Homo sapiens: one gene and its partners. The protein of the gene in region 7 purifies or fractionates together with the protein of the main gene of each other region. This does not show direct contact. Each region holds a gene or a part of one and is shown on either strand. Other genes may lie near its edges. The genes, in order: NCAPH, SF3A1, STK24, SMC1A, ATF1, DCTN5 and MCM6.

What was found.
Region 1: the proteins of MCM6 (region 7) and NCAPH fractionate together in Homo sapiens (co-fractionation; one large-scale study listed by BioGRID). This does not show direct contact.
Region 2: the proteins of MCM6 (region 7) and SF3A1 purify together in Homo sapiens (affinity purification with mass spectrometry; 2 studies listed by BioGRID, with this or other methods). This does not show direct contact.
Region 3: the proteins of MCM6 (region 7) and STK24 fractionate together in Homo sapiens (co-fractionation; one large-scale study listed by BioGRID). This does not show direct contact.
Region 4: the proteins of MCM6 (region 7) and SMC1A purify together in Homo sapiens (affinity purification with western blotting; 2 studies listed by BioGRID and IntAct, with this or other methods). This does not show direct contact.
Region 5: the proteins of MCM6 (region 7) and ATF1 purify together in Homo sapiens (co-immunoprecipitation; one large-scale study listed by IntAct). This does not show direct contact.
Region 6: the proteins of MCM6 (region 7) and DCTN5 fractionate together in Homo sapiens (co-fractionation; one large-scale study listed by BioGRID). This does not show direct contact.

The regions. Positions count from the first base shown.
Region 1 is NC_000002.12:96,352,766-96,356,265, forward strand, and holds part of NCAPH (condensin complex subunit 2), read left to right. Parts: intron 1-540; coding exon 541-632; intron 633-1,417; coding exon 1,418-1,623; intron 1,624-3,500. UniProt on the Homo sapiens protein: Regulatory subunit of the condensin complex, a complex required for conversion of interphase chromatin into mitotic-like condense chromosomes.
Region 2 is NC_000022.11:30,350,395-30,353,894, reverse strand, and holds part of SF3A1 (splicing factor 3A subunit 1), read left to right. Parts: intron 1-822; coding exon 823-944; intron 945-3,500. UniProt on the Homo sapiens protein: Component of the 17S U2 SnRNP complex of the spliceosome, a large ribonucleoprotein complex that removes introns from transcribed pre-mRNAs.
Region 3 is NC_000013.11:98,458,608-98,462,107, forward strand, and holds part of STK24 (serine/threonine-protein kinase 24 isoform b precursor), read right to left. Parts: intron 3,291-3,500; coding exon 3,167-3,290; intron 1,834-3,166; coding exon 1,765-1,833; intron 1-1,764. UniProt on the Homo sapiens protein: Serine/threonine-protein kinase that acts on both serine and threonine residues and promotes apoptosis in response to stress stimuli and caspase activation.
Region 4 is NC_000023.11:53,398,655-53,402,154, reverse strand, and holds part of SMC1A (structural maintenance of chromosomes protein 1A), read left to right. Parts: intron 1-2,424; coding exon 2,425-2,566; intron 2,567-3,500. UniProt on the Homo sapiens protein: Involved in chromosome cohesion during cell cycle and in DNA repair. Central component of cohesin complex. The cohesin complex is required for the cohesion of sister chromatids after DNA replication.
Region 5 is NC_000012.12:50,795,101-50,798,600, forward strand, and holds part of ATF1 (cyclic AMP-dependent transcription factor ATF-1), read left to right. Parts: intron 1-797; exon of another isoform or gene 798-808; coding exon 809-909; intron 910-3,500.
Region 6 is NC_000016.10:23,661,966-23,665,465, forward strand, and holds part of DCTN5 (dynactin subunit 5), read left to right. Parts: intron 1-3,500. UniProt on the Homo sapiens protein: Part of the dynactin complex that activates the molecular motor dynein for ultra-processive transport along microtubules.
Region 7 is NC_000002.12:135,845,444-135,848,943, reverse strand, and holds part of MCM6 (DNA replication licensing factor MCM6), read left to right. Parts: intron 1-755; coding exon 756-891; intron 892-2,551; coding exon 2,552-2,707; intron 2,708-3,500. UniProt on the Homo sapiens protein: Acts as a component of the MCM2-7 complex (MCM complex) which is the replicative helicase essential for 'once per cell cycle' DNA replication initiation and elongation in eukaryotic cells.

The DNA of each region.
Region 1 (3,500 bases), about 39 Mb from region 7:
TTGTTAGCTCCCATTCTTGTCATTTCTATTCTTGCCTCAATTTTGTTTAGTATAGTTTTTGTGCTAACGATCTATTTTCCAAGTTTGTGCTCTCATTTGGGGCTCTAATCCCCTGAAGTAAGTCTTCTCTAGTTTGGGACTAAAAATAAGTTAAAGTACCATTACATGATTGCCTATGTACTTGGTGTATTTTTAAGACGAAGCGTTTGATTTCCCAGCTATAGCATAGGTCACAGAATTCATTTCAGAATCGAATGTCTGTGCTTTAGGTTTCTCCTCTAGTATTTTACTAATTTGTGCGATGACAGTGCATAGCCTCACTCCAGCGTGGGTGTGGCCGACGCATCTGCTCGCTCCCAGAAGAGGCAGGGACACAGACTGGCAGCTAGCCAGCCACTGATGATACTTGAGCCTTTGCTGGAGGACAGTGAGGTAACTGTGCCTCTCATCTCTCGTCCCACTCAGTATCATTCTGAAGGGAGTAAGGAATGCACTTGACCCCCTTCTAATCTCTCTTTGTGATCTTGCTATCCTCTCCAGCGCCCTTGCAGCAGTGTGCAGAAGATCGCCAGATCTGCCCTTCCCTGGCCGGGTTCCAGTTTACACAGTGGGACAGTGAAACACATAATGAGGTGTGGTCAAGTTTTAGTGGCTCATGGTTTCAGTTAGTTGGCTCAAGAGTGGTCCTGCCCAATGGGAACCAAAACTGTGGCATCATCTTTATTTAGCCAGGAGTACAGAAAATATTTCCTTTGGCACTTCTGTAGGGACAAAAACCCTGAGGGAGGAGGGTAGGGTTGTGAACCCCAGCAGGACTATTCTAGAGGTAAGTGAGTTCCAGGATCAGCTTTATGTCCTCTCTTCTGCTATCCTAGGGTAAGGCGGCCCTGGCATTAATCAGTGAACATTTATAATTAGATTTACTCTTGAATGTGGTTATCCCAGTGGCCTCGAATCTCTTAGGCTGCCGTCAAGCTTGAGGAATTTCCTGCTCTTTGGGGTTGAATCCCTTGGCACAGAGTTTCCTGAGAAATTGTCATGTGTAGAGCTTTCCTCTGTGTATTTTTAGCATGGCCCCCTTTAGCCTACTTACTACAATTTCCAAAATAAATGATCTCCATGGAAAACTGTTTTCTGCAAACATGTAGTTAATGGGTACAGAATCCTGTTTCATGTTTTACAAAATGTGCCTGACAACAATGCAGCTTCCTCCTGTGCTGCACAATATAAACTTCCCCCTCACTGTACTATCGTGAGAGTCTTGGCCCAGGCAGGCAGGGGATGGGAAAGGGAAGGGTGGCTCAGGGGAAGGAGGAGGCTGGAAACTGAAATTTAAGGGTGAGAAGGCTGTCCCTCCAGTGGTGATTTGGGGTGGTTATAGGAATGAGAATTACAGAACCCTCTTTTGTCCCTCCAGTCTGTGTCGGCCCTGGTAGACAAGTTTAAGAAGAATGACCAGGTATTTGACATCAATGCTGAAGTTGACGAGAGTGACTGTGGAGACTTCCCCGATGGGTCCCTGGGGGATGACTTTGATGCCAACGATGAACCTGACCACACCGCAGTTGGGGATCATGAAGAGTTCAGGAGCTGGAAGGAGCCCTGCCAGGTTCAGAGCTGCCAGTAAGGCTCTCAGAGTCCGAAAGTGTTTCTATAGGAGTTTTCCATTGGTTCTTTTTTCTTTTTCTTTTTTTTCTAATTAAAAAATTTTTCTTTCTTTTTTTTTCCCCCCCCAAAAATAGAGACGGGCATCTCACTGCATTGCCCAGGCTGGTCTTGAACTCTTGGGGCTCAAGCAATCCTCCTGCTTTGGCCTCCCAAGGTGCCAGGATTTCAGGTGTGAGCCACCATGCCTGGGCACTATCAGTTCTTAACAGATTTCCTGCTGGGGTGATTGAATTTGATGTCTGATTGGCTGGGCTGGTGTGCTGTGTCATACACATCAGCTGAGCTTTTCAGCTGAGCCTTTCTGACTCAGAGGAATCACACCTGGCTTTGAATGTCGGCTTAGCCACTTTGGTTATAAAACTGACATTGCAAGAGTTTGTAAGGATTAGAACAATGTAAAGCGTTTGGAACAAAGCACCTGGGATCTAGTAATTACGTCAATGTGGCTGTTGTTACCACGTGCATTTTGGTAGCAGAGAGCATGCTCCCTTTGTACACATTGCTTATAGTGTGGCTGTTGGTGACTCTAAGCCACCAATTTACCACCTGAAAGGTAAGCAAGTGGGGGTTAGGCAGTGTTGGGTTACCAGATGGGCAGACTGGGGACGAGCAAGGCAGGGAAAACAAAACCAACCAATAAATTGAGAATATTTGGAGGAGAAGAAGAAGAATTGGTTTAGTAATTAAATTTTTGATTACCCTAGTAAACATCATAAAAATAATCAGAACTTGGTTGGCCTTTATGTACTTAATAGGTTAGTATTGTTTTAATTCTAAATATGATTTGGAAGCAGGGTCTCACAACACTTTAATGTCATGGTCCTGTAAAGGTCTTCAATGGGCCTGGGGGTAGGAGATTTCATGAGATTAGAGTGAACAGTCCCTCTGTTAACTCCTATGTCTGTAACAGAGCTTTGCAGAACTGGGATTGGGGACAGCCAAGCTGGTTTTGAGTAAAACCTTAGAAGTTGCTTAGTATAATTTCCCGCTATGACAAAAATCTCTTCAAGACCCTGCTCGGATGTCTTTCCTAAGCTCATTTTGTCTGCCCTTGTGGGAAACGATTAGGCTGATAATGTCTTTTAAAGACATTATCAAGGCGCCACTGCCCATCCAGGCTCAGTAGCACCCTGCTCTCCGGAATTGTACTGTTCACATGGCTGCAATTTTGCCCCATTCTCATCGTGTCTTTTTTGTTTTTATGTTTTTTTGTTTTTTTTTTTTTTGAGACAGAGTCTCGGTCTGTCGCCCAGGCTGGAGTGCAGCAGCGCGATCTCTGCTCACTGCAAGCTCTGCCTCCCGGGTTCACACCATTCTCCTGCCTTAGCCTCCCGAGTAGCTGGGACTACAGGCGCCCGCCACCATGCCTGACTAATTTTTTTATTAGAGACGGGGTTTCACCATGTTAGCCAGGATGGTCTCGATCTCCTGACCTCATGATCCTCCCACCTCGGCCTCCCAAAGTGCTGGGATTACAGGCGTGAGCCACTGCGCCTGGCCATCCTGTCTTCTAAGAAGGGAGAAATGATAGGTTGATGGGATGAACTCTTAAAAACATCATTTTCAAATGTCAGAGAAAAGCTATCACTTTCCTTAAACAGTGAGGTGACATCTGAGGGACTGACAATAACAAAGGGCTTCCATGACTTTTATTTGGTTTCTGGAAGATGTTTTCTGCTGGTTATTTTGAACAAATGTCTCCACTTCTCTCCCCTATTCCAAACAGCACAAAATCTTAGACTCTATCCTACCTAGTACATTAGGCGTGGGAGGCTGCAGTTCTAGTCTCAGATTTTACCCATCCTTAAATCCCCTCCCCTTGCCACATCGCT
Region 2 (3,500 bases), on a different chromosome or scaffold from region 7:
GGAACATGGTTTCTCAGAATGTAGTCGGAGTCCCTGCATCTGAATCACCTGGGCATTTGGTAATGTAGCAGGACGAGTCGCAGACAAAACTCCTCAGACACCGGATTAAAGAAGGAAGAGGTTTTTTATTCATCCGGGAGCGTCGGCAGACTCGTGTCTTAAGAGCCGAGCTCCCCGAAAAAGAAATTCCTAGCCCTTTAAAGGGCTTACAACTCTAAAGGTCTATGTGAAAGAGTCATAATAGATCAAGTAAGCGTGAGGAACGTGACTGGGGGCTACATACATCAGCTAACAGAACAAAAAGTTTTACAGTGCTTTCTCATACAATGTCTGGAATTTACAGATAACACCAGTAGTTTTGGTCAGGGGTTAATATTATTATTATTTTAACCACCAGGGCCAGGTGGTGGCACCAAGGTCGTCTAGCTATTTATCTTACTTCTGTTTCTTTCCAACTTTTTGCTTTCTCCCTTTTCTCCTGTCTTATAAACTAGGGAAAAGGGGAGGTTGGGGAGAAACTGGGAAGGACAACAGGAGAAGTGCTGGTCTCATACCATAGTAAAAATGCAGATTCCTGGTCTCACTGAGATAGTCCAGTGAGAGAGGAGCCAGGGAAGCTGCTCTTCTCCCTGGGTCCCCAGGAGCAGCCCCTGCAGGTGCAGTGAACTTAAGAGAACTGCTTTTCTGAAGTAGAGGGTTCTAACCTGAGGGAAGTCTGTGAATGAAAGTCTACTCTGAATGATATCCTAGAGGAGTTTTACAGTGGAGAACCTGCTCTGAACCAGGGACTTTAAAACCTTATTTCTTTTCCTGTTTGCACAGCCCACAGAAGAAGAAGCATCTTCAAAGGAGGATTCTGCACCTTCTAAGCCAGTTGTGGGGATTATTTACCCTCCTCCAGAGGTCAGAAATATTGTTGACAAGACTGCCAGCTTTGTGGCCAGGTAACAGAGCTACTTGGGTGGGTCAGAGGTGGGTTTCAGCATGAAGAGACTTCAGCACTGAATCAGCACAAGGGTTTTTAAAGAGACGTTGTTGGCTTGGGCCTTTTAGTTCATAAAAAACCACAACATGGCACTGGGGTAGGCAATAGGTAGGACTGGTGTCCCTGACACAGCATAGCAGTGGCCAAAGTGAGAATCACACTTAGCCCCACAGTCACCAGGAGCCTCTGCTTCTAAAACTGGCCTGAGGAAATGCCTGGAAAGCTGCTTCATCACAGATGGTGTGTGTCTGTGCCTGAGCTGCTGGCCTGAGGAAGATAAAAAGGGGAGTTTATTATTCTCATTGTACAAAGACCACATTCCAAGAGCCTCAAATGACCCATCTGCAAAATGGAAAAAATGCCATCTCAGAGTTGTTGTGAGGCGGGAGTGAGGTCATGGGGCTGCATGCAGTTCAGTTCCACGCGGGTGCTAGTCACCTCCTCAGATGGCATGGGCATTGCTCCGAGTTCCTCCTGTCTCTCCTCACAGTTCCATGCAGGTGCTAGCCGCCACCTCAGATAGAATGGGCATTGTTCCGAGTTCCTCCTGTCTCTCCCCACAGTTCTGTGCAGGTGCTAGCTGGCTTCTCAGATGGAATGGGCATTGGTCAGAGATCCTCTCTCTCCCCACAGTTCCATGCAGGTGCTAGCCGTCTCCTCAGATGGAATGGGTATTGCTCTGAGTTCCTCCTGTCTCTCCCCACAGTCCTGTGCAGGTGCTAGCTGGCTTCTCAGATGGAATGGGCATTGGTCAGAGATCCTCTCTCTTCCTACAGTTCCATGCAGGTGCTAGCCGCCACCTCAGATGGAATGGGAATTGCTCCGGGTTCCTCCTGTCTCTCCCCACAGTTCCACGCAGGTGCTAGCCGCCACCTCAGATGGAATGGGAATTGCTCCGAGTTCCCCCTGTCTCTCCCCACTGTACTTACCCTCACATCCTTAGATGGAATTTTTTTACTGGCCCCTTGACTCCAAAGGTCAGTACATTCTCTAGGGTATTTAAGGTATTCCTTTGGCAGCCCTCAGTCCATGTCCAGCCTACAGATGTTTTGTTTGTCCTCACAGTAATTTTTTCGAAACTCAAATTTGTTGCTACTATTTAAAAATGAGGAGGTCAGGTGCTGTGGCTCTTGCTTGTAATCCTAGCACTTTGGGAGCCCAAGGTGGGAAGATCACTTGAACTCAGGAATTTGAGACTAGCCTGGGCAACATAGTGAGACCCTGTCTACAAAAAATAAAAAGTTATCTGGCTGTGGTGGCATGGGCCTGTGATCCCAGCTACTTAGGAGGCTGAGGCAAGAGGATCGGTTGGGCCCAGAAGGTTGAAGCTATAGTGAGCCATGGACTCTAGCCTGGGTGACAGTGAGACCCTGTCTCAAAAAAAACAAAACAAGTAAAAATGAGATTTCACAATCAGTCTGGATTTCTGGACAGTTCCTTCATGTGTGGAAGCAGGCCCAATCAGCATGTGTTCTCCAGGGACCACGTCACCCCCCTGAGGCAGTGTCTCAGTCAGTATGCATCATTTAACGGATGGTCCTTCCTTTCCCAACCTAATAAAATTAGACATAAAGATTACTTTGGTTAGACTTTCTTTTTTTTTTTTTTAAATGACATGGAGTCTCACTCTGTTGCCAGGCTGGAGTGCAGTGGTGCAGTCTCAACTCACTGCAACCTCTGCCTCCTGGGTTCAAGTGATTCTCCTGCCTCAGCCTCCCGAGTAGCTGGGACAACAGGCGTGCGCCACCACGCCCAGGTAATTTTTGTATTTTTAGTAGAGACGTGGTTTCACCGTGTTGGCCAGGCTGGTCTCAGTCTCTTGACTTAATGATCCCCCGACCTGGGCCTCCCAAAGTGCTGGGATTACAGGCGTGAGCCACGGCACCAGCCTACTTTGGTTAGACTTTCACTATGTCAGCTCTGCAGATTCATCTCATTACATTTCAAGGGCTTTGATTACCTTTGAGTATTAGGTTGAAAGCTTCTCTGTGCTTGATTGAACATTGTGATGATGTTGATTGGGTCATGTCAGATTTAGACAGTGTTGTGTTTAAGATAAATGTTTAATGGCTCTTAGCAGTGTTCATGCCTCCCCTTTTCCCCTGATACTTTAAAAACAGAATATACAGAAAAGGGGAGTTGGGTGAAGAATCACCATATTCTCATTACCAGAGTAGTGTCTACCAGCTGTTTTCACATTTTTCTGTTTCCTTCTGTCCTTGGAATCCTTTTTTTAGATCCTTGTAATACTAGTAAAGATATTCCACTCTGTGTTGTAAGCATTTTTCCATTTTGCTCCATGGTCTTCATAATGCCCTGTGGTCCTTTATTAAGGGGATGCACCATGTAGAGGTGAAAGGCTTTCCTTGACTTGGCCACCATTTCTGTATTTTCCTTAGAGGAGGAGGTTTCCAACATTTCTTTTTTAGAGACAGAGTCTCGTTCTGACACGCAGGCAGGAGTGCAGTGGCATGATAACAGCTCACTGCAGCCTTGAACTCCTGGGCTCAAGTTA
Region 3 (3,500 bases), on a different chromosome or scaffold from region 7:
TTTACAAGTCCCGAGAGGGTCAGCTACAATCCAGCACTCTCCCTCCTGCCCATGCCCCGCCCCTAAGTCTCAAAGAAGGAGCAAAGGCGGCAGAAGGGCCGCCCTGGGAGAGGGCCTGTCCCCTTGCCGTGTGGAACGTGCTGGACCCATCACTGACTTCAGGGAGCAACCTGACCTGTGCTCCCTGAAGGAAAGCAGGGACGCCAACACCCGTCTCCTCAATGTCCTCATCTGTAAGCATGGGGATATAATCCTTCTACTGGGCTTCTACAAGTATTGTATGAAATAATACACAATAAACACTCTGAACTCTAGGGTAGCAAATATCATTCTTAAAAATACATTGGGAAAGATGCCTGTGAGTTTAGCAATTGGTTACCTGGAAAATCCAGGATATGACGGCGTTTAGGATATGTCCTGAATAATTATGTCAAAGTTGCTTCATGGGCCCAGTAAAAAAATAAACAGCCTCAGGAGAATGAAAAAGTCCATGCACTTTCCCTAACTGCCTGACTGACCCTATTCCAGCGGCCAATGGCAGGGCCGCAGGAGCACAGCCTGGAAATCCCACGGGGCCAACTCCCATGGGACAAAATGAAGCGCAGGATGGCGCTCAACCCGGACATCCTAGTTAGGAAGAACACAGGTGCCCAGAACCATGAGCCAGGGCTGAAGCCAGACATCATCCAGCAGGGCCTCCGCGTGCCCTGTGGCTTCCCCGACACCAGCGGGCTCGGCTACTTCCCACTTGAAGCTGCAGGTGAGGCCTCGGGCTCTGGCCACAGCCCTGCTCCCACCGGGCCCTGAACTTGCCAGGTCAGAGGCCCTCAGACAAACCCTCCAGGGCACCTGCTGGGCAGGGCAACAGGTGAAGGCTTATTGGAGGGCTGGGAAGAGGCACTGGCAGGACCGTGGCTGGCCAGGCACGGCCCATGGCCGGGGGTCCCCCGCTGCGTGACGCAGGCACAGGGGAGGAGAATGAGCTCCTATGACACTTCCTCTCCTGAGCACCTCCCCTTCAAGGACCAGGACCCCTAAACACAGCCGCAGTGGAAAACTGCCCAAAGAGGGAAGATCCCCACGCAAACAGATGCGTGTGTGGCCCACAGTGAGTACCTCAAAGGCAGCCTCAGCCAGGAAGGGGCACAACAAGAAAAGAGGGGACTTCCAACTTATTTTCAAATCCGCTACTAACCAGATGCAGAACAATCTTCATTCTTATAAAGCCTACTTTTGAAAATCTCTCAAAACACGGCCACGGGAGCACTTTCCTCTGGGAGGGAGAGGCTGAGCAGGGAGTGGGCGTGGGGAGGCCCAGCTGGGAGCACAGCACTGCTGAGCAGAGGAGGGACTTCAGTGAAACATGTGGCTCAGGGGAAACCGGAGGACTCCAGGGCATCCAACGTCTCCTTAGAAGAAAGAATCTACTTTTCACATGGCCAGAAATTGGTCTGAGGCAAAGAGAGCAGGCTGTACACAATGAGATTTGCTAAAAAGCAGGGCAACGGGTGACACAGGGTCTCGGGCTGGGTCACTGTCATCCAGTCTACACATTCCAGGCTGCGGCGGAGTGGGCATCACCCAGGACAGGGGAGGCGCAAGGTGGTGCTGACAGCCTTTGGGAAGGCACCATGCAGGCTTTCCGAGCCTTTGCCAGCTTGTCTTAATGTCCCCAACTCTTAACTGGCAACATCACCACTGAAGTGTGTCCAGCTTCTCCTTCCCCCTCCCCTCCCACTCCGAAAAGGCCAGCCAGGTACCTACCTCTGCAAACAGAGGAGAAATAATTGTAGATAAACACTGAGAGAAAGGCCTCTTCGGGATGTCTTTCATCTTGGGGGAGAGGGAAAAAAAGGTCATCAGAAACAGTTGACGTTCACATTGGCAATAATTTAATAAACCTCCCACCTGGACTATGGAAGCGCAGGAGTTGCCTCTACACTTCACGCTGAGGAAACACCCTCTGCGCACCATAACATCTGAAGGAGACTATCGGCTGCCTCTCACTAGACTTCAAAGTTTCATCTGCAGTGACATGCAAAACCCACGCACCGGGGAAACCAGCATCTGGGTTCCATGTGGAAGGGGACTCTGTGTGGGCACAGGCGGTGAACTGCCTCGTCTTGCTATCTACGCAGAAGTGCTTTACTGGTTGGGCGTGGTGGCTCATGCCTGTCATTCCAACACTTTGGGAAGCCGAAGCAGGAGGATCACTTGAGCCCAAGAGTTCGAGACCAGCTTGGGCAACATAGTGAGACCATGTTTCTATTAAAAAAAAAAAAAGTTTTAAATAAACTGGGCGTGATGTCACATGCCTGCAATCCCAGTTACTCAGGAGGCTGAGGTGGGAGGATCACTTGAGCCCAGGAGTTTGAGGCTACAGTGAGCTCTGATGGCACCACTGCACTCCAGCCTGGGCAACAGAGACCCCGTCTCAAAAAAAAAAAAGAGAGAGAGAGAGAGAGAGAGAAAAGTACTTTACTAATGAAACCCTGGAAATAGAAATCAGGTCAAGATTGGCCATTCCAATGGCTGTCTAGGACAGAGACCGAGTTTCTACTTTTGCAACCTCTATTTGGACATTTAACACCTGTTCACTTATCAAAGCGGGACTTGTAGGATCAACAGGGGACAGCCACTGGCCCACCCTGCCTGAAAGAAACTACACCACTATGCTTTACAAGACCCTAAATATATGGCCTTTCATAAATTTAACAGGCATAAAACCAATTAATCAAAATTGTTTTACATAAATATCAAAAGCAATGCATTTACTTATAAGGTCCTTAAAACTCAGTCACAAAATTATGATATGTATGTAAGTAACCGCAACATGCACAACAGTCCCTCAGAGCTATGAAGTCATTTCACGGGTCACCCCCAAACCCCATGACATTGCCACATCGGGACATCCTAACTCAACAGCAGGGCTGCAGAGAGCAGAATAGAGTGGCACAAAACAGACCAGAGGCCAGACTCCCTGGTGTGAACACCTGGATCATCAGACAGAACTAAAGCTCTTCATCTGCCCATCCCCTAGCAACAAAATTCCAGGACAGCTGCCACAAAGGACCCCAGCCGCACCCACAGCAAGCTTCACACACAAGTGCCTCCAAAACACTGCAGACTGAGGTCAGCGTGGCCATTCTGGAGTGAGCAGACGTACCTTATTTCTGTCCAAGTCCGATGGCTGAAGAGCTCCATTCTCGAGATTCTTGGGATCTTTTTCTCGGATTGTGAAGATCCAGTCCCCAGAATCACTGCCCCCCGAGGCTTGGCCATCTGTTTCCCTTAACACAGAAATGCAGGAAATCCCATCAGTGCTCGCACACCTGCTCTGGGGGCGCTGGGACGTTCAGGGGGAGGCCGCCTGGGGACCTCTAAACCCACACCCACCAGCCCCAAGTCCCCACCCATCACACCCTTGTCCAGTCCCTCTGGGATTTCCCAAAGACCCCCCCGCCTCCTCCCTCACAGAGAAGAGACCATCGGGAGGTGGT
Region 4 (3,500 bases), on a different chromosome or scaffold from region 7:
GGATATAGAATTGAATCAGACTGTATTTCTTTCCTCAGGAAACATATAGAGTACTGGGGGAAACATCAATTTGAGGACAGTGTGATCAATGGTGTAATTAAGGTAGATACAAAATACTGAAGAAATTTTCAAGGAACTGCAAATCAACAACAGGAAAAATAAAAAACAATGACAAGAAACCCAATGGAAATGTGGCTAAGTACTTATGATACCCAATGCAATGAAAAAAGTAAAAAAAAAAAAAGTGGCAAATAATATAGATAGGCTTTCATGGAAAGAGAAGTTCAAGTGGCTAATGACCATAGGAATTGAGGTCTAACCTCTTAATCAGAGAAATGCAAATTTAAAAGTCTGACAGTATTAGGTGGAAATCTATAGATGTCCTGTGTAGTATGTGAAAAAAATATATGTGTATATATATAATGTATATATATACACATATATAAAACCTATGGGTATATATCCCTGAGAGAGTCTTGCCATAGGGTCCCAAAGAGATACACATTCAGTGTCATTCATCTTGGCATAACTTGTAGTAGTGGGACATTGGTGGCAATGTAGATGGCCATTACTGGGGGAGCATAAGTCAAATGAATATATAGACTGGAATACTGTGTGGGAGTTCACAGCAAGAACTAGATTTGTGGGCAGTAATGGATAACTTATAAACCTGGTATTGACCAGAAAAAAGAATAAAATTTATAACACAGTAGATTTGTGTAAATTTTAGAACTAAGACATTTTACAAGGATATGCATTTTTAAGGAATGCATGTGTGTATGTCACTTTGTGGTGCATGTTCACAGTAGGGAAGGTAATGGGAATGGAAATTGGGGATTGAAACAAAGAGGACAAGGGAAGGGTCTTGCCCAGGCAGTGGTGATAAGTGTGTTATGAACTGTGGGATATGATTAACTTGCTTCTGCACCTAAAGTCTAAAAAGGGAGGAACCCAACAAAGTGTAATAGAAACTAGGAACCTGCTCAGAACCGTCAGGAAAGGTTTTACAAAACAGGGAGTGATGACTGGAGACCTGAAGAGTGAGTAGGATTTAGCCAGCCAGGCAGCGACAGAAAAAGTGAATTCCAAGCAGAGAGAACAGCATGCTTGGAAGTGTGAGAGAGCATGCCTTGTTCTGGATACTAAGTAGTTTTTAATGTCTGGAGCATAAAAGCAGGGTCAGGAAGAAGGTGGGGAGTGGTGGAGAGGTCAGCAGGGGCCGGATCACAGAGGCCTTTGTGAGTCATACTTAGGAGATTGGATATAAAATTGCATAGCTCAAAATTATAGAGTTAGTTATATTTCATTTGGATTATAGTGGCTAATAGGTTTAAGCTGCTAGCATGACATCTGGCAACATCTGTCACACCATATTGGGAGTTGGAGAGGGCAATTGGAAGTTAGTCCTGCCTGGCCTGCCAGTGCCTGTGTATGCTGGTTGCATACTCTTGAGTTTCTGAAGAGATGGAGAGGAGGACAATAGCAGGAATCCAGTATTTTCTCCATGTTTTTGTACTATCCAAGTTCTGCCCTTTAAGAGGTTCTGGGACCTTGGGGCAGAAGTTGGGATGCTGTAGTTGAAGCCCTTGGACAAAAGTAAGCTGAGTACAGTCAATATACCTGGTGATAATGGTAACTAAAATTGATTGAGTAGTTATCGTGGACTCGGTGTGGTTCTAAGGACTTTATACATATTAACTCATTTAAAAATCTCCCAATAACCCTGAGGTAGGTACTATTATTATGTTCATTTTGCAGATGGGGAAACAGGTCTGGAGAGTATAACCAACTTGCCTGAATGACATTACTAGTAAGTGGCAGAGTTGAGATGCCAGTCTTCTTAATCCACTACATTATGTTGCAGTGGTGGTATACTAGAAAGAGCCCGGGTTTTGGTGTTAAATCTGGGTTTCAGTCTCACATGTGCCATTTACTAGCTGTGTGGCCTTGGGCAAGGTCTTTTACCTCTTGGCCTAAGTTTTCCTCATTTGTAAAATTAGGATAATAATGCCTACTTGCAGAGCTGTTGATTAGAGGATTAGAGATAATGTATGTAAAGTACATAGAAGCCTAATAGGAATTACCATAGCTGGTAGAATCAGATGGACTCTTTTATGCCTCCTTGTAGGAACTTGGAGGGCGCTGGGGTCTTCATTGTTTAAAGGGGGATAAATAAGGTTTGGCCGAATCTTCCCTGCCTTATGCCATGTCCACAGGGCTAGGCTGAGGAACTTAGTTCTTCAGCTTCAGGGGACCGTTTTATGTGCATATGGATGGATGAAGCAAGTTGTGACTGAAAATCAGTAACTCTGGGTCCCTGAGCCCTGGGTCTAGTTTCCCTTTCTTCCCATAGTTGGATTTTGTACATTGGTTATCTCTGGCTGATGAGATTATGAGTGATTCTCCCCCCACCTTTATACACAGTTTGGAGTTTGAGAATCAGAAGACTCGCTTGGGCATTCAGTTGGATTTTGAAAAGAACCAACTGAAGGAGGACCAAGATAAAGTACACATGTGGGAGCAGACAGTGAAAAAAGATGAAAATGAGATAGAAAAGCTCAAAAAGGTAAGGAAGGAAAGAATTAAAAGACAGACTAATAACTGGGAGGAAAAATGGGAAGAAATACGACAGACAGAAGGATAATGTCCACAACTTAGAAATTTCTCATCTAAATCAATAAGAAAAATACCAAGACCTAAACGGGAAAAATGGATAAATGTCACAAACAGTTCAAGAAGACTTTCAAATAGTCCCTAAACACATACAAATAATTTAGTCTTACTAAAGAAATGCAAATTAAAGCAACAATTAGATACAATGTATTTTGTAACACATCGTGGAAAATGTAAAAACAGAAGACACAATGCTCAATACCAGCCATGGTATAGGAGACCAGTATTCTTTTTTTCTTTTTTTGAGATGGAGTCTTGCTCTGTTGCCCAGGCTGGAGTGCAGTGGCACTATCTTAGCTCACTGCAACCTCCGCCTCCCGGGTTCATGCCATTCTCCTGCCTCAGCCTCCCAAGCAGCTGGGACTACAGGTGCCTGCCACCACGCCCAGCTAATTTTTGTATTTTTAGTAGAGACGGGGTTTCACCATATTGGCCAGGCTGGTCTCGAACTCCTGACCTCATGATCCACCTGCCTCGGCCTCCCAAAGTGCTGGGATTACAAGCATGAGCCACCGTGCCTGGCCAGGAGACGAGTATTCTTATGTAATGTGGCACCATCCTTCAAGAAGCTTCACAATGCATTTATACTCTGTAACTCAGTAGTACCTGAGGAGATCATCCAAAATGCTGGCAAAGCTTTATGCAAACACTTTGATGTTTATAACAAGCATTATTTATAGTTCCAAATTGGAAACTACTCAGTGCCCCTTGGAAAGTGGGAATTTAGCAAATCATGCTACGTTTGTAACATTATTTATGTAGTGTCTTCAAACTTTAGTAATACACAGACCCTTTTTAAAGGAAAAATAGTCCCTAAGATTGCCAGT
Region 5 (3,500 bases), on a different chromosome or scaffold from region 7:
AAAATGGCATATATTTATACCTGCCATTGCCAGTGACCTCCACCTTGCTAAATCGAATGGTCTGTTCTCAGTCTTTATTTTATCTCAGCTTGTAAACAGCATTGGACATGGTTGATCATTCTTTTCTCCTCAGTATGCTGTCTTCACTAGTTTTCCATGGACAGCTCAATCATTTGGTTCTCTTCTTTACTGGTGACTCCTTAGTCTCATTTGCTGGTTCCTCCTCTTCATCCAGTCTCTTAGTGTTCCTGAGGTTAGTCCTCAGTCCTCTTCTATTTACCCCTATGAGCTCATCCAGTCTCATGGCTTTAAGGACTCTAAAAAGCTAGACCTCCAAAATTTATGTATCTAGCCCAGACCTCTTCCCAGACCTACAGGCTTGTATATTTAATATTCGTCTCAATGTCAGCAGTTGAATATATAACAGGTTTTTCAAACTTAGCATGTCAGGTAGATTAGTAATAAAACAACACTTTTAAGTAATGTGCATCAGTGTAGAAATAGGGTGGAGAATGACATCAGAGCCTGGTCTTTTTAACTCTGGTAAAATAGTACTGCTTCATTTGGGGGACAGACTTTATTCTCAGCTCTGGGCCTGCTATATTTGATATTCCTTTAATAGGTTGGGCTCCTGGAATAAACTTTCTCATTTTTCCTTTTCCTTTTGTTCCTTTCTTTTAGACTTTAGATTTAATGTACAAATGAATTGGAGTGGCAGGAGACAGATCATTTTTTTCTAAAAGTAAAAATTCAGTTGTTTCTTTTCCCACCTGCATTGTTCATCATGTTAATGCCAGTTCTTTTTTAGGTATCATCTTTATCAGAAAGTGAGGAGTCCCAGGACTCATCCGACAGCATAGGCTCCTCACAGAAAGCCCACGGGATCCTAGCACGGCGCCCATCTTACAGGTGAGTACTCTCTTGTATGAAGCCCTGCATGTTATGATAGTACCAAATGAGTTCAAGAGGTGCTGTGCAAAGTACACTAAAGAAGTTAGCACGCGTCAGTGTTAAGAATGAAATTGGTTGGCCCTCGCCTATAATCCCAACCCTTTCGGAGGCCGAGGTAGGATTGCTTGAGCCCAGGAGTTCAAGACCAGCCTGGGCAACATGGCAAGACCCTGTCTCTTCAAAAAATACAAACCTTAGCTGGACATAGTGGCGCACGCCTGTAGTCCCATCTACTTAGAGGCTAAGGCGGGAAGATGGCTTGAGCCCAGGAGTTTGAAGTTACAATGATCTGTGATTGTGTCACTGTGCTCCAGCCTGGGTGATAGAGCAAGATCCTGTCTCCAAGAAAAAATGAAATTGGACCTTTGGCCGGATGCAGTGGCTTATGCCTGTAATCCCAGCACTTTGGGAGGCTGAGGCGGGCAGATCACCTGAGGTTAGGAGTTTGAGACCAGCCTGGCCAACATGGTGAAACCCCGTCTCTAATAAAAATAGAAAAATTAGCCGGGTGTGGTAGTGCACACCTGTAATCCCAGCTACTTGGGAGGCTGAGGCAGGAGAATCACTTGAACCTGGGAGGCGGAGGTTGCAGTGAGCCGAGATTGTGCCACTGCACTGCAGCCTGGGCAACAGAGCAAGACTCTGTCTCAAAAAAAAAAAAAAATGTAAATTTAATCTTTATCTTACACCATTACACAAATCAACACCAAATGGATAAGAGACCTAAATGTTAAGACCTGAAACCATAAAAATCCTAGAAGAGAACATAGGCGATAAGCTCTTCGACATTGACCTTGGCAATGATTTTTTGGATATCACACCAAAAGCTTAGGCTACAAAAAAATAAATAAATGGGACTACGTCAAACTAAAAAACGTGTCTGTGTAGCAAAGGAAACAAAGCAACAAAATGAAAAGGCAACTTACGGACTGGGAAAAAATTATTTGCAAACCACTTATCTGATAAGGGGTTAATACCCGTAACTGAAGACAAAATGAGAGAACCTGAGGATACAGCTCTGAGTAGATTACCTAGAATGGAACACAGAAAGACAAAGTTAAGATAGAACACAGAATGAGAAGGTCCAGTACACAACATACATAGATAAAAGGAGAGAAGAGGGAAGGGCACTTCCAGCTTCTAGTCTCTCCAGGAGAGAAAATGATAATGACTGCAATTTCCAGGATATGAATTTCTCAGCATAAGAAAGCAAGGTCCCAAACAAGATAAATTAATAGAAACCTACATCTAGGTGTATGTTGTAAAGTAAAACTGGAGAACACCAAGGATAAACCTGAGATCTTAAAAGCTAAAAGCTTCCAAGTGAAAAGACCAATTACCTAGAAAGGAAGGACCAGTAAGCTGACAACAGATTTTTGAAGTACAGTATAAGACAATGAACTAAAATCCTTATTTTTATCTTTAAATTATTACATGTTTTTTTGAGACGGAGGTCTCACCCTGTTGCCTGGGCTGGAGTGCAGTGGTGTGATCACAGCTCACTGCAGCCTCAACCTCCTGGGGTCAGCTCCTCAGCCTCCTGAGTACCTGGGACTATAGGCATATGCCATGATGCCCACCTAATTTTTTTTAATTTTTGGTAGAGATAGAGTCCCACTATGTTGACCAGGCTGGTGTCAAACTCTTGGGCTCAAGTGATCCTCCCACCTCAGCCTCCCAAAGTGTTGCTATTACAGGCATGAGCCACTGTACTCAGGCTCCAATATTTAAATTCAAAGAGAAAGTAACTTTTGACCTGGAATTCTGTGCCTACTGAACAGTCTTTCAAAAATGACGGTGAAATAATAATCATTTTCAAACTGATTTAAGAAACTACTTAAGGAGGCTGGGTACAGTGGCTCACGCCTGTAATCCCAGCACTTTGGGAGGCCGAGGCGGGTGGATCACTTGAGGTCAGGAGTTCGAAACGAGCCTGGCCAACATGGAGAAACCCTATCTCTACTAAAAATAAAAAAATTAGGTAGGCATGGTGGCACATGCGTGTAGTCCCAGCTTGAACCCAGGGGGCGGAGGCTGCAGTGAGCTGAGATCGTGCCACTGCACTCCAGCCTGGGTGACAGAGTGAGACTCCATCTCTAAAAAAAAAGAAAAAAGAAACTACTTAAGTGTATACTTCAGGAAGAAGAAAATGAAAGGAATATAAATGTGAGAAAGTATGGTGAACAAAGACAATTCATTTCAGTTAGCATTGGCTTTTTAGAACAATAGTAATAATGATTAATTTGGGTAGTTTCATGGTTGTTGTTTTTTTTTTGAGATGGAGTCTCGCTCTGTCATCCAGGCTGGAGTGCAGTGGAGTAATCTCGGCTCACTGCAAGCTCCGCCTCCTGGGTTCATGCCATTCTCCTGCCTCAGTCTTCCGAGTAGCTGGGACTACAGGCGCCCGCCACCACACCTGGCTAATTTTTTGTATTTTTTAGTAGAGACGGGGTTTCACTGTGTTAGCCATGATGGTCTCAATCTCCTGACCTCGTGATCTGCCCACCTTGGCCTCCCAAAGTGCTGGGATTACAGGCGTGAGTCACCAT
Region 6 (3,500 bases), on a different chromosome or scaffold from region 7:
AGCACTTTGCGAGGCCAAGGCAGGAGGATCCCTTGAGCCCAGGAGTTCAAGACCAGCCTGGGCAACAAAGCAAGACCCTTTCTCTTAAAAAAAAAAAAAACCCAAAAGTTAAGGGATTTGATAGGGCTAGAAAGCAGTAGACCTGGGATTTAAACCCAGGCAATATGATTATTAGCCATGCTGCTATATGGCCTACTTATTGCCTTACTTCACGGAGCTTACAGTCTAATGGGAGTAAGGAAATCTGAAGGGTGAGTTGAAACTGGGGGAAGACAGGCATTTCAGGAAAGAGATTCACATGCGTAAGGAAGGGTTCAAGTCATCAAAGGGCATTTACATGTAATTCAGGGTGCAAGCGGGCCCCTTGCTCAGCAGAATCTGTAGGACCCTGGTCCATTGGAGCCTAGGAATAGGTTGATTTAACCCAACCAAGGCTTAACAAGGTTGGATTTCCTGTGATTTCTTAGATGATGAGCTTGATTTCAGTTGGGATTTATGAGAACCATGTTTAGGGAAAGTGTTTTCTGCATTTTAGATTTGTACTCCAGACTAGATTCTAGGAAAAGCCAAGACTCTGTTTCTTTAATGACCATTCCCGTTAATATGGAGCCAGCTCTCTGCCCTGGATAAGACTCAGACCCTGAAATATCAAAAAACTTGCAGAAACCAAACAGTTCACATTCCAGGAGCTATGAGGGTACAGCAAAGGTGGACAGAAAGTCTTTGGGACAAGGGGAAAGTTAGTAAAGTTCATCTCTCCCCTCACCCTAATTGCTTGACAAAAGCTAGCCTTCCAGCTGGGGGTTTCTGATATTTTCCTTAGCAAAGTGAAGATATCACCCCAGTAGCCTAGTCATATAACCCTGTCGTTTATCCTCAGAGCGAAATGTCTGAAAGGTTGAATCCAAATTCTATTCCCAGTGCTTAGGAAATTCTAATCCTATTGTCAGGTGCTCTTGTTTTTATGCCACTTTTTAATACATCACTTCATGATATAGTCATTGTTCCATATTGGCGGTACTCGCTGAGCCTTGACAAATACTCGATCTCAGGAGAGATTCTTTTAGAATTCTAGAATCTCAGCACTGGAAGTAACTCTTTTAGTCCAGCCGTCCCCATGACACATAGCTCCTTCCTATAACATCCCATGTGATAGTCTTAATTTCCGTTTGGATATGTGAAGATGTAGGTGTTCATCAGAATTGCTCAGATGCCTGAAGGAAAAGCTTAACAAGCAATATTTATAGGCACTGTTACTGTACTATGAGTTTTACATTTATTCTCTCTATTCTTGACAACCTCCCTGCAGATTTGGTTTTCCATCCTGTTTCATAGATGAGGAAACCAAGGCTCCAAGATGCTAACTTACTTGCACAGGATATATAGGTAGCTGTAGTATTAGCAGCACGGCTGCAGTTGTTAACTCCTTGGAAAGCTCTCTAGGGAAGAATAAAGAAGTAGTTTCAGGCCAGGCGCAGTGGCTCATGCCTGTAATCCCAGCACTTTGGGAGGCCGAGGCAGGAGGATCACTTGAGGCCAGGAGTTTAAGACCAGCCTGGCCAACATGGTGAAACCCCGTCTCTACTAAAAATACAAAAAAATTAACTGGGCATGGTAGCACATGCCTGTAATCCCAGCTACTTGGGAGGCTGAAACAGGAGAATCGCTTGAACCCAGGAGGTGGAGGTTGCAGTGAGCCGAGATCGCGCCACTGCACTCCAGCCTGGGCAACAGAGTGAGACTCTGTCCCCCGCCACCAAAAAAAAAAGAAGTTTCAGCTTTTACCTCCTCAGCTATTACCAGTACATTCATGCCTAAGAAATACCTACATTTTAAATGTTTAATTTGATTGATCAGTCTACCCAGACAGCTTCTGAAACCCAGTTAAGTATTATTTCTCTAAGTGGGCAAAATGGCCAACCAGTGGACAGAGCAGGTGCCTTCAGGCTGCATGGTGGCTGGTATACACAGTGAAAATATCCCATCAGCTAGTCTTCTTTTCCAGGGCCCTTTGTCTGTGGATCCCTCCATGGGACTATATCATGCCTTATGTAGCACATTGGGTGTCCTTTTACTCAGTGCCTCATGAACTTAGTCTGAGTTAGTAGGAGCTTAGTCATGACAGGAATTCTTAGGGTTTATGTTAATTTGAGGTCACCAGGGAAGATAGTTGCCCTATTTTTGAAATTGCCACTAGCAGGTAACCCACGGAAGATAACTTTACAAGGAAGAACGAAGAACTATAGTCATAATGTGCTTTTGAGCTAAAGATGTTGCTGAGTATTCTCATAGCTGTTATCCACCTAGCTGGAGAGAGATCAGCCACTTGGGAAATTCAGAGCCACTTAGGAAATTCACATGCTTTCATAAGAAGTTCATTTAGCAATCTACCTTTTCCTAGAAAAACATATGATTTAAGTGTTTAATAATGGGGAAAAATTTAAACACAAGCAAATCAATCATGTTCTTTGCTAAAATCTGAGGTCTGGACTGGTTAGCATTGTCCTGGTATTTGTAAAGATTTCCACATTCTCAGTCAGGTATATTTTCTGATTGTCTAGCCAGGATACCAGTGAACTAACAGGCCCTGATGTAAATGCAGTCAGAATGATCAAAACTTTCATTTCCTCAGCAAGGAGTCTAAGATACAGCTGTAAACTGTACACAGAAGCCCCATGAAACAGATGAGTCTCTCAGACCTTATTTCTTGCTCTCTGAATGCCGTGGATCATGGCAGAATTGAAAAGTGGTGACAGTGGTTAAAGTCAGGGATGAGGTTCAAACATCTACATGACTATCACTCACCAGTGGGAGAACAAATGAACTAATAGCTTCATATCCAAATGAATTTTTCAGGGTTTTTCCAGTTTGAATTGACAAAAGAGCAAACCAACCAACCAACCTTAAGCTGGTGGATGTGGAGTGGAATGGGTGGTGAATATAAACCAAGAGTACAGGAGTAGATCTTAATGTCACGGCCAAATGGCTCCAGGCATTCAGCCCATGTTGTAAGAATTAGTCTCCATCTCTGTGCTGCTTTCCTCTGGGAGGTTCACTCCCAGGCAGGTTCTTCCTTCATGGAAATAAGATGCCTATTCCAGTCTTCCAGCCTATCCTCTGGAAACCCCAGTGGGAAGTGCTGCTTTCCCCAGTAGTCCCAGCAAAAGCCCTGAGGTTGGGGTCCATCAGACTAATTGGGGTCATATGCTGACCTGTTATTGTTTCCAGGCTTGGGGTTTGGTGTGTGGGCTGGGGGGTGAAGCACATGGATGAGATGGGGATGGGAGGGTTACCGAGGAAAATACAGGTTCTGTTACCAGAAGAAAGGGGAATGGATGCTGGACAAGCAAAAGCACAAATGTCCACTAAATCAAAGGGAAAATTCAACAGAGCTCATGGAAGACTGAAATTCAGTCTGTAATGTCTGAGACAGTTTGTCCTGCCTCTAGCATACAGCCTTCCCCCCGAAATGTACACAAACACACACTCTCACAACCTTG
Region 7 (3,500 bases):
TCCATTTCATTTTCTGGCTGGTTTCATTGCTGGTTGTTTTTTTGTTTTGTTTTGTTTTTGAGATGGAGTCTCACTCTGTCGCCCAGGCTGGAGTGCAGTGTCACAATCTCGGCTCACTGCAACCTCTGCCTCCCAGGTTCAAGCGATTCTTCTTTCTCAGCCTCCTGAGTAGCTGGGATTACAGGCATGTGCCACCATGCCCAGCTAATTTTTTATATTTTTAGTAGAGATGGGGTTTCTCCATGTTGGTCAGGCTGGTCTCAAACTCCCAATCTCAGGTGATCCGCCTGCCTCTGCCTTCCAAAGTGCTGGGATTATAGACATGAGCCACCGTGCCTGGCCTAGTTCTTATGGGATGTATATGTCTTTGGATTCATATGATATGTATATATGTTTATATTTCTACAAGTACATACCTAGGAGTGGAATTGTTGGGTCATAGGTTAATGCATGTTTTTCTGCCAAACAGTTGTGTCAATTTCTGTTTTCACCGCTGTGAATGAGAGTTGTTCTACCTTCTTGACAACACTTGATATTGTCAGTCATTTTAGCCATTCTGGTGAATTTATAGTGCTATTTCTGTGTGTGTAAGAGAGAGAATGAGAGAGGGTGTTTGTGAGAAAACCAAAGCAACACTGTGAGAGTGTGTGTGTTTGTGAGAAAACCAAAATACATACTACTGTGATTTCATTGGGAGAAAATCTGTTTGGTATATCAAAAAAAGTAGCTTAATTACTTCATCATTATTGGTTTAGGTCCAACCTAAACATGTGAAGGAAGCTTTCCGGTTACTGAATAAATCAATCATCCGTGTGGAAACACCTGATGTCAATCTAGATCAAGAGGAAGAGATCCAGATGGAGGTAGATGAGGGTGCTGGTGGCATCAATGGTGAGATACTTGTTCATGTGACTGTTTTGGAGTTAGGGACCAAAACATTTTCTGAGATGTCATGTGGTAGAAGTACACCTGCTGTTGGCTAATAGTCTATGGTAGCAAAACGGAAAAAGCAGATACTGAATTCTATTCACTGTTTACAAGTTAAAATGAAATTAAATAGTTGATATAAAATATATATACTTGGCTGGGCACGGTGGCTCTCGCCTATAATTCCAGCACTTTGGGAGGCTGAGATAGGTGGATCACAAGGTCAGGAGTTTGAGACCACCCTGGCCAATATGGTGAAACCCCTTCTCTACTAAAAATGCAAAAATTAGCCAGGCGTGGTGGCGGCTGCCTGTAGCCCCAGCTACCTGGGAGGCTGAGGCAGGAGAATCACTTGAACCCGGGAGGCGGAGGTTGCAGTGAGCTGAGATTGTGCCACTGCACTCCAGCCTGGGTGACAGAGCGAGACTCTGTCTCAAAAAATACATAGATATTTGAAAGACTAAAAGAAAAGGCAGCAAAATGGTGATAATAGACATAAATCCCCTGGGTTTTACCCTTATTTGTATTGTTGTTTTGCTTCTGAATTGAAAACATTTTTTCAAGCACATTAGAACAGAAAAATACTAGAAATTTTATTTATTTTGAGATGGGGTCTCATTCTGTCACCCAGGCTTGAATGCCTTGGTACACTCATGGCACTGCAGCCTTAACTTCCTGGGCTCAAGCAGTCCTTCTCCCTATCCTCTCTAATAGCTGGGACATATGCCCACGCCACCACTCCTGGCTAATTTTTTGAGAATTTTTTCTAGAGACAGGATCTCGCCATATTGCCCAGACTGGTAGAATTTTTTATTTTGTATATAATACTGCAAGTGGACTTTCAGATTGTGAAATCTTTATATCTCTGATCCCTCACGTTCCTCCCAAGTTAGTTTTTGTCTTTACTAGTAGAGTTTATACATTTGCTTCTAATTTATTTGAAAATTCTTATATGCTATGTATAACTGTATGCATGTTTTTTTTTGTTTGTTTTTTGTTTTTTTTTATTTTTGAGATGGAGTTTTGCTTTTGTTGCCCAGGCTGGAGTACAATGGTGCAATCTCATCTCACTGCAACCTTTGCCTCCCGGGTTCAAGCAATTCTCCTGCCTCAGGCTTCCGAGTAGCTGGGATTACAGGCACCCACCACCACACCCAGCTAATTTTTGTATTTTTAGTATAGACAGGATTTCACCATGTTGGCCAGGCTGGTCTCAAACTCCTGACCTCAGGTGATGTGCTTCCCTTGGCCTTGCAAAGTGCTGGGATTACAGGTGTGAGCCACTGCACCTAGCCGGTTTATTTTGTTTTTCATTTTTATTTTTTGGCAGAGGAGATCATGTGGGAATGTATGCTTGTTTTAAAATTAGTGTTAAGGCTGGATGTGGTGGCCCACACCTGTAATCCCAGCACTTGGGAGACCAAGACAGGAGGATCAGTTGAGTCCGGTAGTTCGAGACCAGCCTGGGCAGCATAGCAAGACCCTGTCTCTAAAACAAATAATAATAATAATTTTTAAAAGTGAAAAAAATCAGTATTAAATGTAAGTAGTGTATTTGTAAATGCTTGACAAGGGGATGTTAAGGGCACAAAAATAAGATTCAGGTGGTCAATTTTTCACTTAGGTCATGCTGACAGCCCTGCTCCTGTGAACGGGATCAATGGCTACAATGAAGACATAAATCAAGAGTCTGCTCCCAAAGCCTCCTTAAGGCTGGGCTTCTCTGAGTACTGCCGAATCTCTAACCTTATTGTGCTTCACCTCAGAAAGGTGGAAGAAGGTGAGGCTTACCTGGTACTGCTTACATGCTCGGTCACTTCTGTAAGCTCTGTTCACATAGGCCACTTGTGATTGCCAAACTTCGTGTTGTTCTGTCGGAAGAGAGGATAAGTTGTTAGATAAACTCACTTTAGCAAAGTAAATTTGTGGAGTATCAGCATACCTGCCAGCCTGAACATTTCTTCACAAGCTTATTGTCAGGCAAAGCTTTGTAGGTCCTTCTTTTTAACATTCTGGGCCTATTTTAATAATTTTGGGACCTGATAACATATGAAGCAGCACATACAAATGTTTTTACAAATGCAAAATTACTATTCCCTTACAATGGTTCTGTTTAAAACAGCTGGACCCCTAGGGTATATTTTAACAGTAATTAATTGAGCCTAGAAATCTATACTATCAAAAGGCCATTGCAGACTAGAAATGGAGTAAAATCCTCATGTAGTTATTGGTAAAGTGTGGCGTCTGGACACTAGTACGCTTCCTACCCTTAACTGCTTTACCATGCTATTCAAAGTTTTATCACCCTATAGTTAACTACAAAGCAGAAGGAAAAATGATGAATTCAAGATGTTGAACCTAAACTTCTACTTGATAGTTAAGCATCAGATAATTCTTGATTAAAAGCCCCAAGGATGGCTTGTGCTGGCTTTCTGGAATATTTTGTCATCACAGTATTTGCTCTGCTATGAAAGAAGAGAACAAGAGATTGTAGTTTCTGCCCTTGTTCCCCTGGGAACTTTAGACCAGTAGGAGAGAAGGCAACAAAGTGGCCACTAGGACGCCTCAGCTTT